3 separate regions of the Homo sapiens genome follow, and regions 2 and 3 are each reported to be linked to region 1. The links are microRNA targets in miRTarBase. Many come from high-throughput screens and were not tested one by one. Region 1 holds a microRNA gene; each other region holds the end of a gene's coding sequence.

Region 1 (5,396 bases):
AGCAGAAATACAAATAACCCAATTTTAAAATGGGCAAAGGATCTGAATAGACATTTTTCCAAAGAAGGCATACAAATGGACAACAGGTATATGAAAAGGTGCTCAACATCACTAATCATTGGGGATATGCAAATGAAAACCACAGTGAGATCTCATGTCACCCTTGTCAGAATGGCTATTATAAAAAATGCAAAAGATGGCAATATTGGGAAGGGTGTGGAGAAAACAGAACCCTGGAAAACTGCTGATGGAGATCAATAGAGCCATTATCAAAAATAGTATAGTTTCAAAAAAAAAAAAAAAAAAAGACCTATTCTATGACACAGCAATCCCACTTCTGGAATACTTATCCAACAGTTGAAATCAAGATCTCAAAGGGATATCTGCACTCCTATATTCCTTGCACCGTTATTCACAATAGCAAAGATATAGAAACAAGATAAATGTTCATCGATGGATGCATGAATAAAGAAAATGTGGTATATTATCCAGCCTTTAAAAAGAAGGATATCCTATCATTTGCAGTAACACAGAAGGACCCAAAGGACATTATGTTAAGTGAAATGAGCCAGAAAGAAAAATATCTTATGATGTCACATAAATATGAAATGTAAATTAGTCTAACTCATAGAAGCTGAGTATAAAATGATGGTTAGCTGGGGCTGGTGCTGGGAAAGTAAGATGTTAGTCAAAAAGTACAAAGTTTTAGTTTTCCAGGACAAGTAAGTCCTGGATATCTAATGTACAGCATGGCGACTATAGGTGAAAATACTGTACTGTATACTTAAAATTTGCTATAAGAATAGATCCTAAGTATTTCCAACACACACACACACGCATACACACATAAATGATAACTCTATGATGTAATGCATGTGTTATCTTGATTGTGGTGATTTCCATATATATATATAATCATTAAGTTGAAAACCTTAAATATATACATTAAAAATAGCTAAAGTATTAAAAAAACTCAACAATAAAAAGATAAATAACCTTGAACAGACATCTCTCCAAAGAAAACACACGGGTACTCAACATGCACATGAAAAGATGTTCAACATCATTAGTCATCAGGGAAATGCAAATCAAATCCACAATGAGATGACACTTCATACCCACTAGCATGGCCAAAATATAAAAGGCAAACACAAGTGTGCATGAGGATGTGGAGAAATTGGAACCCTTTTATACTGTCGGTAGGGATGTAAAATGATGCTGCCATTTTAGAGAAACAGTCTGGCAGCTCCTTGAGAGGTTAAACATAGAGTTATCATATGACTCAGCAATTCCACTCCTATACCTGGGGGAAATGAAAACCTATGTCCAAGGGAAATAAAAACCTATGTGCACCTGAAAACTTACAGATGTTCACAGAAGTATTATCTGTAATAGCCAAAAGGCAGAAACAACCCAAATGCTCACCAACAGACAAATGGATACATAAAATGTGGCATATCCTTAAAATGGAATATTAATTGGCCATAAAAATAAGTGAAGTACTGATACATGCTAAACACAGATGAATCTCGAAAACATACTAAGTGAAAGAAGCCAGTGGAAAAAGGTCACATATTATAATTACTCAATTTCTATGAAATGTCCAGAATAGATAAAATCTATAGAAACAGAAAGTAGATTAACAATTGCTTAGGGCTGGTGAGTGGGGGAAAGGTAGGGAGGGGGGTGAGCTAAATCGTATGGAGTTATTTTTTGGATGATGAAAATGTTCTAAATTTGACTGTGGTGGTGGTTGCACATATATGTGAATATACTAAAAACATTCAATTGTACACTTTAAATGAATGAATTATATGGTATATGATTATAACCCAATAAAGCTGTTTAAAAAACAAACTTTGGATAGCTCCTTATTGCTTGATAAATAAAAGTCCAAATTCCTTAATTGGGCATTCAACTCCCTCCCCTCCTGCATCATCATTTGACCCCCGACCAGCATCATTGCTCACTACTCCCTTTTACATGCTTTTCTATCCAACCAAGATGAATTATGCACCATTACCCATATATCCCTTGTGGTCTCCCATCTGTCTTTCTTCTCGCTATTCCTTCCCCCTGAGATTCTCTCCTCCTGACTCATCTTCACATGTTAATATTCTACTTCTTTCACAAAGCCCAGTTCAAATGCTCCCTCCTATGCAAACCCCTCCCTGTTCTTCAACCCTCACATAGTAGGCACTTAAAAAACTATTTACTGAAAGAACGAAGGTACGTAGTTCTCCTATATGATGGCTCTCATTTACAGAGAAGATAATTCTCCCAAAGCCACAACTTTACTTCTTTCTTCCTTTCCTGGTCACAGCAGCAGCTCACTGCTTCAGCCCCCTTACCCTGAGGACAATCCCAAACTGGTACCTTGATGAAGAAAGTACTGACATTACATTATGCCAGGGCCGCCGAGTACAGTTGTGTAGGTTGTGCACTGCACAACCCTAGTGGCGCCATTCAATTATAGTCTATGTGAATGGCACCCTCTCCTAGGGTTGTGCAGTGCATAGCCATTCGTGGCGGCCCTGCTTGGAAACATTCCTAGTGTTTGAGAACAAAGCCAAAAAGAACACTCAATGAGAGAATCACTATGTTGTCGCTGAGAAGTAGGCAACTCAAAAATCTTGTCAAGAAAAAAGAAATTCAAGAGAATAGCATGGCCATAGCACACAAACAGCATTTGCATGGAATTGAAAACAGGAACATCCAAGAGAAAAATTGTTACTGATGTTTCTCCAGCAGTGGAGAGAGAACAGGACACACATTCTGGTCACACTACAAAGCTATGACAGACATGCAAAAAGGTACAGTTTTCCATGGACTACCAAAGCCTATATGGTCTCGCTCATGAGACTTTTCAACTCCATTAGGTTCTGATTTTAGGTTATAAAACAGTCCCTGTTTAATTTGGCTTCAGGTACCTTGATATCAGAAAGGGCTGATACACACAAGTGTTCTCATCTCTATAAAGGTCTCTCTCTCATCATCAATCGACTTATCAGCCTGGTGATTTATTAAGAAGTGTTTTGTAATGTTGGGGAGTGTGACCCAATCCACTAGAAACCAACAGCCCTGGGTAAGCTGATAAAAATTAGGCTTTGAACCTACAAACCAAGTTGCAGAGTTAGGACCCGTGTCAACTCCACCAAGGCACAGACACCCTCAAGCTCAGTCAGAGCAGCTGGCCAACTAGCTGGCCAAGTCAAAACTGCAGCCAGTAATTCAGGGCACTCCAAAATGGAGAGCCATAAAGGACTGGACATATTGGTAGTGACAACAGGTGAGCTGGTGGTAGAGCTCAAGGGTGCCAGATGTTGCGTTTGTTTCTTCTTTTTGTTCCCCACTCCAGTTCAGTTCAGCCTCCCACTTTCATATTTGCTCCACCTGGAATATTTCATTCCACTTCTTCTGTCTCCTCTAGAGATTTCCTGGATAAGTCACAAAAATTAAGCATTCTTTTTCTGAACTCCATTGGTATTTGTTGGTACTTATACACTAATCACTTATTAGTCTCATACTGTTGTTAGTAACAACAATAATGGCAGTAGTTATTCCTTACTGAGTGCTTACTAGGTGCCTGGCACTACAGTCAATGTCTTACACATATTAGTTCATATATTCTTCATAGCAATCCTATTATGTAAGAGATTATTATTTTCCTCCTGTTTGCATACAAGGAAACTGAGCTACAGAAAGGTTAAATAAATTGCCTAAGGTCGCACAACTAATAAGTGAGTCAAAGAGTCAGGCCTGGAACCCAAAACTATCTGATTCCAGAGGTCATGTTTGTTGCCAATACTACCTTTTGTCTCCACCATAAGATAATTTATCTTTTCTGGAGTTCCCTCTGCCTCCACTCCACATAGTGCCTAACACACCATCGGACATATAAAAGTCCTCCAGAACACATGCGCACATCTGCCTCTGCTCCCTGTCCAGAGCCCAGCCCAGGACATAAGCTGGAAGAGAAGGGAAGACGGTGTAGTTAGCATGAAGGGGCTTGACCTTTCAGGGAGCCACAGGAGTCCTCCTCCTCTGACCCATTTAAGAGAGGATCATGCTGCTCCTTGACCTCAATCCCAGAAAAATATGTAGAACAGGATGACCTGGTTACCTTGAAACTCGTCAAGAAAACTCTGAAGTAACAGAGCCTAGGCCAACCCATGGGAGGGATGGATGGTATCCAGTTCCCTGAAGCAAGAGGACCAATTGTGTCAGAGTCAAAGCCACATGGGACAGCTAATGTTTGCAGTGCTCCACCACCAATGAACTCTATGGCCAAAGTTGGGGTTTTTATGATGGTGGGGGAGAGGTGTATTTTTTTTAAAAGAAAGTATTTTTTACACCTCCTTAAGCCTCAGTTTTCTCATTGTTTAAAACAGAAATAAGAATACCTACCATTTGCAGTGCTTCTAAGGCATAAAATGAGAATGTAATAAAAGCACCTATTTCCTGGTGCCTACATCAGTTTGTTCTTCCTGAGGTTCTGAGCACACAGTGATGCAGGACATAATTCCTGTCTGCAAGAAGCTCACAGTCTGGCTAGCAAAGGTCTTCTACGGCACCCTGTCAACCAAAATTAAAGCTGGTTGGTGAGTTAGCCTAACTCTCAGCAAGACATTTTATCAAAGGAAAATTTTGGTGGGAAAGAAGGTAAGAGCTGTTGGCAAGAGTAAAGATTGTGGGTTATATCTTTGCTTTCCTATCTTTGCTGCAAATCTCCCATCCACACCTTTGTATTAAAAAATTGGGAAAGGGGACTCCATTAATCACTGTTTTAAAAAATGATGCATGTAGGCCAGGCATGGTGGCTCACGCCTGTAATCCCAGCACTTTGGGAGGCCAAGGTGGGCAGATCATGAGGTGAAAAGATCAAGACCATCCTGGCCAACATGGTGAAACCCCGTCTCTACTAAAAATACAAAAAAATTAGCTGGGCATGGTGGTGCATGCCTGTAGCCCCACCTACTCGGGAGGCTGAGGCAGGAGAATCGCTTGAACCTGGAAGGCGGAAGGTGCAGTCAGCCAAGATGGCGCCACTGCACTCCAGCCTATGCGACAGAGCAAGACTCCGTCTCAAAAAAAAAAAAAAAAAAAAAAACAGATGCATGTAAATGCTGTTCTTTTCCTTCACAACACATATCACCATTTCTCATTTATATTTAGCTATGTTTTCATTAAATGTTGATCTTCCCTGCTGACCATAAGCTTCTGGAGAGCAGGAGCTGTGTGATGGTCCTCACTGTAGGTCCAGAACTTAACACAGTGCCTGGAACATATGAGATGCTCATCAGGTACTTGCTGAATGAATAAATGAAACAAGATGTCTCCATACAATATGGATAGACTTGGTTACCTAAGCAAAAGCCATTTTAGAATATTCAAGC
Region 2 (5,000 bases), not on the chromosome of region 1:
CCAGCCTCCTGAGTAGCTGGGATTACAGGTGCCCGCCGCCATGCTCGGCTAATTTTTGTACTTTTAGTAGAGACAGGGTTTCACCATGTTGGCCAGGCTGGTCTCGAATTCCTGACCTCAGGTGATCTGCCTACCTTGGCATCCCAAAGTGCTGGGATTACAGGCGTGAGCCACCGTGCCTGGCTGCTTCTTAATATAATTATTTATATGTGTTGCCATTTCAGGTCTAAGAAGAGCCACAAGAAGAGCCGGAGAGGGAATGAGTAATGGACTCAGTTTGGTTTTAGTCCACATGGCCTCCTGTGGATATAAGGATATCTGTATGTGGAAGGATTAAGATCTCCCCCAGGCAGCTATAAGAATATTTTAGTTTTTTTCTTATCAAGTTTCTCAACCTTTATTTTTAATGAAGGAGGTGCTGAGTTTTGTATCTTTTTAATCATAATCAACATCAGTTTTTGACCCAACTAACCTTGACTGTATTCAAACTTATGAGAGTATAAAGGATCTGGAGGTTGGGGATATGACTGACAAGGAAAGGCTGTGGCCACCTGATGACCCTTTCCCTTTTTATTAAACCGGACACACCTGTTTCCCATTTCGCTGTAGTTTAGTTTTTGGTTTGTTGTGGTTGGAACTGCTTTGAGAATCCTGGGATTTGTGCTGCTGCTGTTATTCAAAGATCAAAGGAGTAAAACATAGTTGCTCCTAACTTTTTTCCAGCAGCAGCAAGTGGTAATAAACATGAAAACTGGTTTGTAGCAGTTTTGAAAGAATAGAATGCATTCAAATGTAAGGCTGCTTCTGGATCATTAAAGCCAGTTTCATCAAACAGTTCAACAGAGAGCAGCACTTAATACCCTTTATACAGCCCATTTTTTCATAGTTTCATTTGTTCTTGCCCACAAGCTTGAAATCCAGGTTAAGGTATCCAGCCTTTATCATATAAGCATTGACATTATCCAGGCCTAGTCAGTAGCAGTAGGGTAACGGGATTGAAAAAGATTTGATGGAGAGGAAAGTATCTAATATTAGTCATGGTTTTGACCTAAATTGCTAGACAGTCGTGCCATTCACAAAGTCAGAAAATACAGCAGGAAGAGACAGCTTTTAGAGGGGCAGAGAATTAGAGGATGGTGGTAGTAATGAAAATGATGCATTCAGTTTAACAAGTTTAATTTGAGACAGCTATGGTATAGCTAAAAACAAAAGCCCATAAAGTTGGAGATAGGGACCAGAGTTTAACATAGCGATCTAGGCCAGAATTGACAATGTTTAAGTAATGGTGGAATCTGTCAATAAGACTTCCCAGAGTGTTAATATATATCAGAAATGCACACAACAGAACCATAGGCAACACCAACACAGGAAGAAATAGAAGTCACCTATTGAAAACTGGAATGGCCCATTCAGAAAGACAGGAGAATTAGGAGAGAGTGAGTGAAAGAAGCCAAGGGTCAAGAATGCAGAAGCAAAGGAAGGACTAAAAAGCCTCCACGGACATCGATAATCAAGAGATTATTAAGATCTTTGCTAGAAGAGTTCCTTTACCTGTACTTAACTCCCTTAAAAAGAGAAAAGTGATGGAATGACTTCTGCAACTGTAGTCCCAGCAGGAACTGTGAAGACCAGCTGCCCTGCAGGATCCAGTTTTTCTTGGGAGGTTGTATCTGGTCATAAGGTAAACATTCTATATATTCTATGCCTGCTCTAGAATTGAAAGACTTCAGCAGTATTAAAGCATTTTTTAATCTTATTTGAGCTTTCATATTCTTCAATGGTTCCTTTCGTAATACCTGAGTTAATAAAAGTGGTCTGAAAGAGCTCTTACGGTTTCTGATAGAACTATATAGGACTACCTTTTAAGATTAAATATAAGCATCTGTACGTAAATGTATTACAGTGTCATAGCAGTTATTTCTTTATGAAAGTGATCTAGGTAGAAAGAAATGTCTTCTGGCATGGACAGAAATGACCCATGGACCAACCAAGCTGTCATCCAGTACACTCTTAAAATAAAACTTTGTCTTAAAATATGTTTTAAAGTAAAAATAAACCCACGCACAAAGCCCAATAAATTTTAGTAACAGAAATAAACCTCCCTAAACAAACATTAAAACATACTTGTTTAGACATATGGTAATATGTGGACCAAAATTGAGGTACCACAGCCAATCAATAGCAGGAAAGAGAATGTCCCTATTCTTTAATTAGAAGAAGGAGGTAAGAGTAAGACATGTTGCATGTCTGTAGATATCGTTTTGATAAAATTACACAGGAGATGGAGCTTGAGGACAAACCTTGCTGTAAGGCTCTTTCTGTCATCTATGTGCTTGCCTATGGATGAAGCATTTTAAACTTTTTGACTACAGCATACATTTTAAAAACGTATTTTACATCTTACCTCTGTACACATCTGTATTCTGTACTGAGACAAATTTCAGGAAAGAATACTTACTATGCAAAGTGAATTCTGGTGTTTCCTACTTGTTAACAGTTTTTAATATTGGATGAAACCACTTAATCGATTTCACTTCCAATAATTTGAAATACACTGACTTAAAAGCTTTGCCATAGGGCACAATCGCCTTTTAATACTAAGAAAGTAAGGGAGATGTGTTCCAAGGGGCAAAAGAAATAATGCATTTTTGGCCAGGTGCGGTGGCTCACGCCTGTAATCCCAGCACTTTGGGAGGCCGAGGCGGGCAGATCACCTGAGGTCGGGAGTTTGAGACCAGCCTGGCCAACATGGAGAAACCCTGTCTCTACTAAAAAATACAAAATTAGCCGGGCATGGTGGCGCATGCCTGTAATCCCAGTTACTTGGGAGGCTGAGGCAGGAGAATCGCTTGAACCTGGGAGGCAGAGGATGCGGTGAGCTGAGATCGTGCCACTGCACTTCAGCCTGGGCAAAAAGAGCGAAACTCCATCTCAAAAAAAAAAAAAAAAGAAGAAGAAGAATGGGTTTGGTGAGAGGGTTCCAATATTAACAACCCAACTTCAAGCTCATTCCTCTAACCTCTTCCTGTTTGTTATTCTTCAGTAGACCGAAGTTTAAATAAGCATTATTTAGAAAAGAACGATCACAGATTGCCCACTCCCTCAAAAAGGTTAATGTGACAGAAATTCTCCACCTGCTCAAAAAAGACAGCAGACATGATCTCTTTAAAAAAAAAAAGTTCAAAAGAGATTAAGAGATGAAAAATAAGATTGGTGGAGTTTAAAGGCCTTATACTAGAAACCACAAAACATAAAACAGCACAGAGAAAATAGGCTGGAGGAAATAAAAAATGGAAAAGAGAAATATGTAGAATAAAGAAATATTCTGATGGTTTAAAAAGAATTGGCCGGGTGCGGTGGCTCACGCCTGTAATCCCAGCACTTTGGGAGGCCGAGGCAGACGGATCATGAGGTCAGGAGATCGAGACCATCCAGGCTAACACAGTGAAACCCGTCTCTACTAAAAATACAAAAAATTAGCTGGGTGTGCTGGCGGGTAGAGCTACTAGGGAGGCTGAGGCAGGAGAATGGCGTGAATCCGGGAGGCGGAGCTTTCAGTGAGCCGAGATCGCGCCATTGCACTCCAGCCTGGGCAACAGAGTGAGACTCCGTCTCAAAAAGAAAAAAGAATTAAATGGGGTCAGGATGGTCTCAGATCTTATAACAAGAAGGCAATGAAGCAAAAGGCTCCAAAGGTTTGAGAAAAAGTGCCAGGAATTTTATACTTTGCCAAAGTTGTCTTAAAATACAAAGGCTATAGATGTTCTCAAGTTTGTAAGAACTTAAAAGTACAAATCATGAGTCTTTGGGAAAAAACCGCCCAATAATGAAATTCAACTAAAGAAGAAATGAATCAAATTAAGGACTTAGGAACAAAGAATCAGTAAAAGGAGTGTTAGTAAACACTTCAGAAACTTTAAAAATAATGGGCAATGATTATAAAGTCAAATATTATGAACACTGTCTATATAGAAATAACAAGTAGAGTGTGCTGGTTTCATCTTTCATAGCAGGAATCACGTACAGTCTCTAATTAAAACATACATGAAGCTAGAAAAAAAAATAGCCTCTTTATTGTTTTCCGTAATTGTCCTTAATTTTAGGAGAAATCTTACAAGACTAGATTCTCTTGTGGGGAAAAAAGTATTTAAATTGAGCATTTTTTCAGTTTCACACTTGTTTTCCTTTTGTTAATTTGCTATATTTGTTAAATATAGCATATGAGCCCACTTTTGTAAAACTATTTGTATATATGTGCCTGTATGATTAAGAGAGATGGTTGGAATGAATGAAGTTCACCAGATAGTACTTCTTTCTGGCTGATGAACTTTTGAATGATTTTTAAACTTTGTACTTTTATATAATGCTTATTTTCTTTTTACAATAAACATGTTAATTTCTACAAGGAAGAAATGAGTTGTTGGGAGTTAAAAGCTTTTTTATAAGCATACCAACACATTTTACGTATTGTTTGCTGGAACTACAGATTGATAACCACTTTTATGAAGGGCAATTTGGCAATATGTAGCAGGAACCTTAGGACTTTTGATCCTTTTACCCAGTAATCCCATTTAGGGGAATTTACCCTAATAGAATAATTACATGTACACACAAATAGCTTTATCCCATCATCATTTTACACATTACATATATAATATGTATATATAAGAATAACTGGAAACAGCAAAAATGTCCATCTGTAGGGGATATAAACAAATATACAGTACATATTTATATTTTTAATAACCCTAATGTCAAGGGAAAATACTAATCTCCATGTCATTAAACAGAACATTTCAAAACAATTTGGTCTTAAATGTGTGTGTTCTCCCTGTATAAGATTGATAATTTTCTACTTAACTGCTCTACAATGAATCTGAACTCATAATCTACTTTGCAGACTTAAAATCTGAGTTTCTACTATATCAATTTTAAACTATATGTTTTTCAACAGAACAGTTTTGCCAATTATTGAACACTGGCAGTTACTGAAGGAGGGG
Region 3 (5,000 bases), not on the chromosome of region 1:
TGCCCAGGCTGGAGTGAAGTGGCATGATCTCGGCTCACTGCAACCCCTGCCTCCTGGGTTTAAGCTATTCTCTTGCCTCAGCCTCCCGAGTAGCTGGGATTACAGGTGCTCCCCACTGCACCCGGCTAATTTTTGTATTTTTAGTAGAGACGGGGTTTCACCATGTTGGCCAGGCTGGTCTTGAACTCCTGACCTCAGGTGATCCGCCCACCTCAGCCTCCCAAAGTGTTGGGATTACAGGCATAAGCCACCGCCCCCGATCTATGTCCTTTCATTAGCTTCTTCAATGTAAATATTTAGGGTTTCTATTACTATTTATATTATATTTATTTAATACTTTTCCTTTTTTTTTTTTTTTTGAGACGGAGTCTCGCTTTGTCGCCCAGGCTGGAGTGCAGTGGCGCGATCTCGGCTCACTGCAAGCTCCGCCTTCTGGGTTCACGCCATTCTCCTGCCGCAGCCTCCCGAGTAGCTGGGACTACAGGCGCCCGCCACTGCGCCCAGCTAATGTTTTGTATTTTTAGTAGAGACAGGGTTTCACCGTGGTCTCGATCTCCTGACCTCGTGATCCAGCCGCCTCGGCCTCCCAAAGTGCTGGGATTACAGGCGTGAGCCACTGCGCCCAGCCTATTTAATACTTTTTCTATAGCCAGAACTATTTGTGTGACCTCAGTTGGTTCAGGTTAACCTAGCTCTCTTTATTTCCACTTACCCATCAGGTCCAGTGCACGTGCCAACATTACACTGTCAGGGAAGAAGCGCAGAAAACTCCTCCAGCAGATCCGGCTTGCCCAGAAAGAGAAGACAGCCATGGAAGGTGAGGCTGGGACAGAGGTGGGTGAGGGGAATCCTGGATTTATTTGGGATAATACTTCCTTCTTCCCTTTACTCAGTGGAAGCCCCTTCAAAGCCAGCCAGGACTAGTGAACCACAGCTCAAAAGGCAAAAGAAGACAAAAGCCCCCCAGGATGTAGAAATGAAGGACCTTGAAGATGAGAGCTAAACCTCTTCCACTAGAAGATTCTCAACTGGAGCCAGCCTTCAGACTCAGTGGTTGTTTCAGAGGACTTTGACAAAAGCAAGGCCCCTTTTCACTCTCCAGATTTCCTCCTACCTAATGGCCTACTGACCTCCCCTAGAGGGATGTCTTTGGGAGGGAAGAAGGTACAGAAGAAAGATTGGAGAAGGGCCTCTCTAGCAGTCAACTCCATTTGTAATAAAGCCCTAGCACTCTGAGATGTGTGTGATTAAATGTAGGAATGGGGATGGGTCATGAAAAGATTGGGGAGTATGGAAACAAGACAGTGAGGAAGCAGTACCCACAGCTTCCTTGTGCAAATGCAACAAGATGCCAGCCTCTGCCCTCAAGAGTGGTGGTGCCTGGCCGGGTGCAGTGGCTCACGCCTCTAATGCCAGCACTTTGGGAGGCCGAGGCAGGTGGATCACCTGAGGTCACAAGTTCGAGACCAGCCTGGCTAACCCCGTTTCTACTAAAAATACAAAAAATTAGCCGGGCGTGGTGGTGCACGCCTGTAATCCCAGCTACTTGGAGGCTGAGGCAGGAGAATCGCTTGAACCCGGGAGGCGGAGATTGCCTACCGGGGTATTGCTTGAGGCCAGGAACTCAAGGCTGTAGTGTGCTGTGATCTCATCTGTCTCCTTAGTGAGTGATACTCTAACTTTCCATTTATGACAAAGATACAGATTATTCGAGAAGTTGAAGTTACAGTGAGCCAAGATTGTCCCACTGCACTCCAGCCTGGGCAACAGAGTGAGCCATTGTCTCGAAAAATATAGATAGATAATTGTAGGGATAGCAGAGGTAAAGGTCCTGATACCAGTTCTGCCACTGCCTCTGTGTGACTAAGGTAGGCAAGACACCTTACCTCTTCTGTCTTACTTCTTTTGCTGCATTATATTTTCATTTTAATTTATATATATATATATTTATTTATTTATTTTATTTTAATTTTTTTTTTTTTGAGACAGAGTCTCACACTGTAGCCCCGGCTGGAGTGCAATGGCATAATCTTGGCTCACTGCACCCTCTGCCTCCCGGGTTCAAGCAATTCTCCTGCCTCAGCCTCCTGAGTAGCTGGGATTACAGGCGCCTGCCACCAGGCCTGGCTTATTTTTTGTATTTTTTAGTAGAGACAGGGTTTCAGTATGTTGGCCAGGCTGATCTTGAACTCCTGACCCTGTGATCTTCCCACGTCGGCCTCCCAAAGTGCTGGGACTACAGGTGTGAGCCACCGTGCCCGGCCACCCCTGACTAATTTTAAAAAATTTTCTGTAGAAATGGAGTTTTACCCAGGCTGGTCTCAAACCCCTGGACTCAAGCGATCCATCCACCTTAACCTCCCAAAGTGCTGGGATTACTGGTGTAATAATAATAAAAAAAAAACTTTCAGTAAAGAGAAGAGATTAGTAAAATGAGCCCTGGTATATGCCCTCTACTTAGATTTACCAGTTATTAACATTGTGCTACACTTCTGTATCTGCATTTTTCTTGTCCTTATTGAATGAAATCCTTTGAAAGTCAAATATAGACAACATGAAACCTTACTCCTAAGGACATCCTTCTATGTAGCCAAAATACTGTAATCACAGCTAAGACATTTAACATTGATTAAATACCTAATATGTATTTTTATTTTATTTTATTTTATTTTATTTTGATACGGAGTCTTGCTCTGTCGCCAGGCTGGAGTGCAGTGGCGCGATCTTGACTCACTGTAACCTCCGCCTCCTATGTTCAAGGGATTTTCCTGCCTCAGCCTCCTGAGTAGTTGGGACTACAGGCGCCTGCCACCACGCCCACCTAATTTTTGTGTTTTTAGTAGAGACAGGGTTTCACCATGTTGGCCAGGATGGTCTCGAACTCTGACCTCAGGTGATCTGCCCACCTCAGCCTCCCAAAGTGCTGGGATTACAGGCGTGAGCCACTGCACCGGCTATTTTTCTGTATTTTTAGTAGAGGCGGAGTTTCACCATATTGGCCAGGCTGGTCTTGAACTCCTGACCTCAAATGATCCACTCACCTCGGCTTCCCAAAGTGTTGGGATTACAGGTGTGAGCCACTGTGCCTGGCCCACCCAATGGTTTAGTAGCCATGATGATCATTACCTGAATTAGTTATTACTGTGTTACAAAATGGTGATTTTCCAATACTGTCATTCATTCATTCATTCATTCATATTATTCCTATGACATTCTATAAAGAAGAGCCCAGGCCATGCATGGTGGTTCACTCCTGTAATCCCAGCACTATGGACAGCTGAGGCCAGGGGATCACCTGAGGTCAGGAGTTCAAGACCAGCCTGTCCAACATGGTGAAACCCCGTCTCTACTGAAAATACAAAAAATTAGTCAGGTGTGGTGGCCTGCACCTGTAGTCCCAGATACTCGGGAGGCTGAGGCAGAAGAATCACTTGAACCCGGGAGGGGGAAGTTGCAGTGAGCCGAGATCGTGCCACTGCACTCCAGCCTGGGTGACAGAGCAAGACTTTTCAACAACAAAAAAGAGCCCTGCCCCTTTTTTATTATCACTATGAATTTACAGATTTTTTCCAATGTTATAATTTATTGCTAACACTTTTTCATGCTGAAATTATGACAAGTTTGGCAAATAATAGCTTCTTCAAGTTGGTCCCTAAGTCCTTATGACACAACCACAGTATTTGAGCACTTCATTGCTTTCTGGCACAATAATATATTCCAGACTCACCTATTACTTTCCCTGCCTAAGAACTTGGAGTCAGCAATTTCACTAGTAAAAAATTATTATGTCCAGTTGTTTTCCCTGTGCAATATTTCACTTAATGTTCAGTGGTTTTTGTTTGTTTTCTTTTCTTTTTTTTTTTTTTTTTGAGTCTCGCTCTGTCCCCCAGGCTGGAGTGCAGTGGCGCAATCTCAGCTCACTGCAAGCTCCGCCTCCTGGGTTCACGCCATTCTCCCGCCTCAGTCTCCCCAGTAGCTGGGACTACAGGAGCATGCCATCATGGCCAGCAAAGTTATTTATTTATTTATTTATTTATTTATTTATTTTGAGACAGAGTGTTGCTCTGTCACCCAGGCTGTAGTGCAGTGGCGCAATCTCGGCTCACTGCAACCTCCGCCTCCCAGGTTCAAGCGATTCTCCTGCCTCAGCCTCCCGAATAGCTGGGATTACTACAGGTGCACGCCACCACGCCCAGCTAAGTTTTTGTATTTTCAGTAGAGATGGGGTTGCACCATGTTAGCCAGGATGGTCCCAATCTCCTGACCTTGTGATCTGCCGGCCTTGGTCTCCCAAAGTGCTGGGATTACAGGCGTGAGCCACTGCGCCCGGCCTTATTTTTTTTTTTTGAGACGGAGTCTTGCCCTGTTGCCCAGGCTGGAATGCAATGGCATGATCTCGGCTCACTGCAACCTCCGCCTCCCGGGTTAGAGCGATTCTCCTGTCTCAGCCTCTCGAGTAGCAGGGATTACAGGCATGCGCCACCATGCCCGGCTAAGTTTTTTTAATCTTTAGTAGAGACAGGGTTTTAGTAGATACAGGATGGTCTCAAACTCCTGACTTCGTGATCCGCCTGCCTCGGCCTCCCAAAGTGCTGGGATTACAGGTGTGAGCCACCGTGCCTGGCCATTTTTTATTTTTTGTAGACATGGCTTCGCCATTTTGCCTAGGCTGGCCTCCAACTCCTGGGCTCAAATGATCCACCTGCATCGGTCTCCCAAAGTGTTGGGATTACAGGCATGAGCCACCACGCCCGGCTAATGTCCAGTTTTAAACACAGGAGAAGTATTCTTTTGACATTGAACTGGCCGGTTGTGATGGCTCACGCCTGTAATCCCAGCACTTTGGGAGGCTGAGGTGGGCGGATCACTTGGGATCAGGAGTTTTAGAGCAGCCTGGCCAACATGATGAAACCCTGTCTCTACTAACAATACTAAAACTAGCTGGGTGTGGCAGCACATATCTGTAGTTTCAGCTACTTAGGAGGCTGAGGCAGGAGAAT

What was found. The annotated mature microRNA hsa-miR-652-3p reads AAUGGCGCCACUAGGGUUGUG and lies in region 1 at 2,447-2,467, opposite strand. An mRNA with a match to its seed (bases 2 to 7 or 8) in the 3' UTR can be bound and repressed. Matches are read on the target gene's strand: a 7mer-m8 pairs with bases 2 to 8, a 7mer-A1 pairs with bases 2 to 7 and ends in A, and an 8mer does both.
Region 2: miRTarBase lists PRPF38A as a target of hsa-miR-652-3p. Seed matches in the 3' UTR shown: 7mer-m8 at 3,571-3,577.
Region 3: the mRNA of LBHD1 is a reported target of hsa-miR-652-3p. The part of its 3' UTR that is shown has no 7-base or 8-base seed match.

What each region holds. Positions count from the first base shown.
Region 1 is chrX:110,052,460-110,057,855 of GRCh38, reverse strand. It overlaps MIR652 (microRNA 652), which reads right to left and starts at 2,527; the gene lies at 2,430-2,527. All of the region lies in intron 2 of TMEM164 (transmembrane protein 164), which reads right to left.
Region 2 is chr1:52,416,424-52,421,423 of GRCh38, forward strand. PRPF38A (pre-mRNA processing factor 38A) reads left to right here. Exons shown (of 10, transcript NM_032864.4): 10 at 225-4,413. The coding sequence ends at 267. Among named protein-coding and RNA genes, the nearest start is that of PRPF38A, 14 kb to the left of the region's middle. RefSeq lists a silencer at 434-728.
Region 3 is chr11:62,659,053-62,664,052 of GRCh38, reverse strand. LBHD1 (LBH domain containing 1) reads left to right here. Exons shown (of 7, transcript NM_024099.5): 6 at 720-817; 7 at 894-1,236. The coding sequence ends at 924. It overlaps C11orf98 (chromosome 11 open reading frame 98), which reads left to right. Exons shown (of 4, transcript NM_001286086.2): 3 at 720-817; 4 at 894-1,236. The coding sequence ends at 1,003. Among named protein-coding and RNA genes, the nearest start is that of C11orf98, 3.7 kb to the left of the region's middle.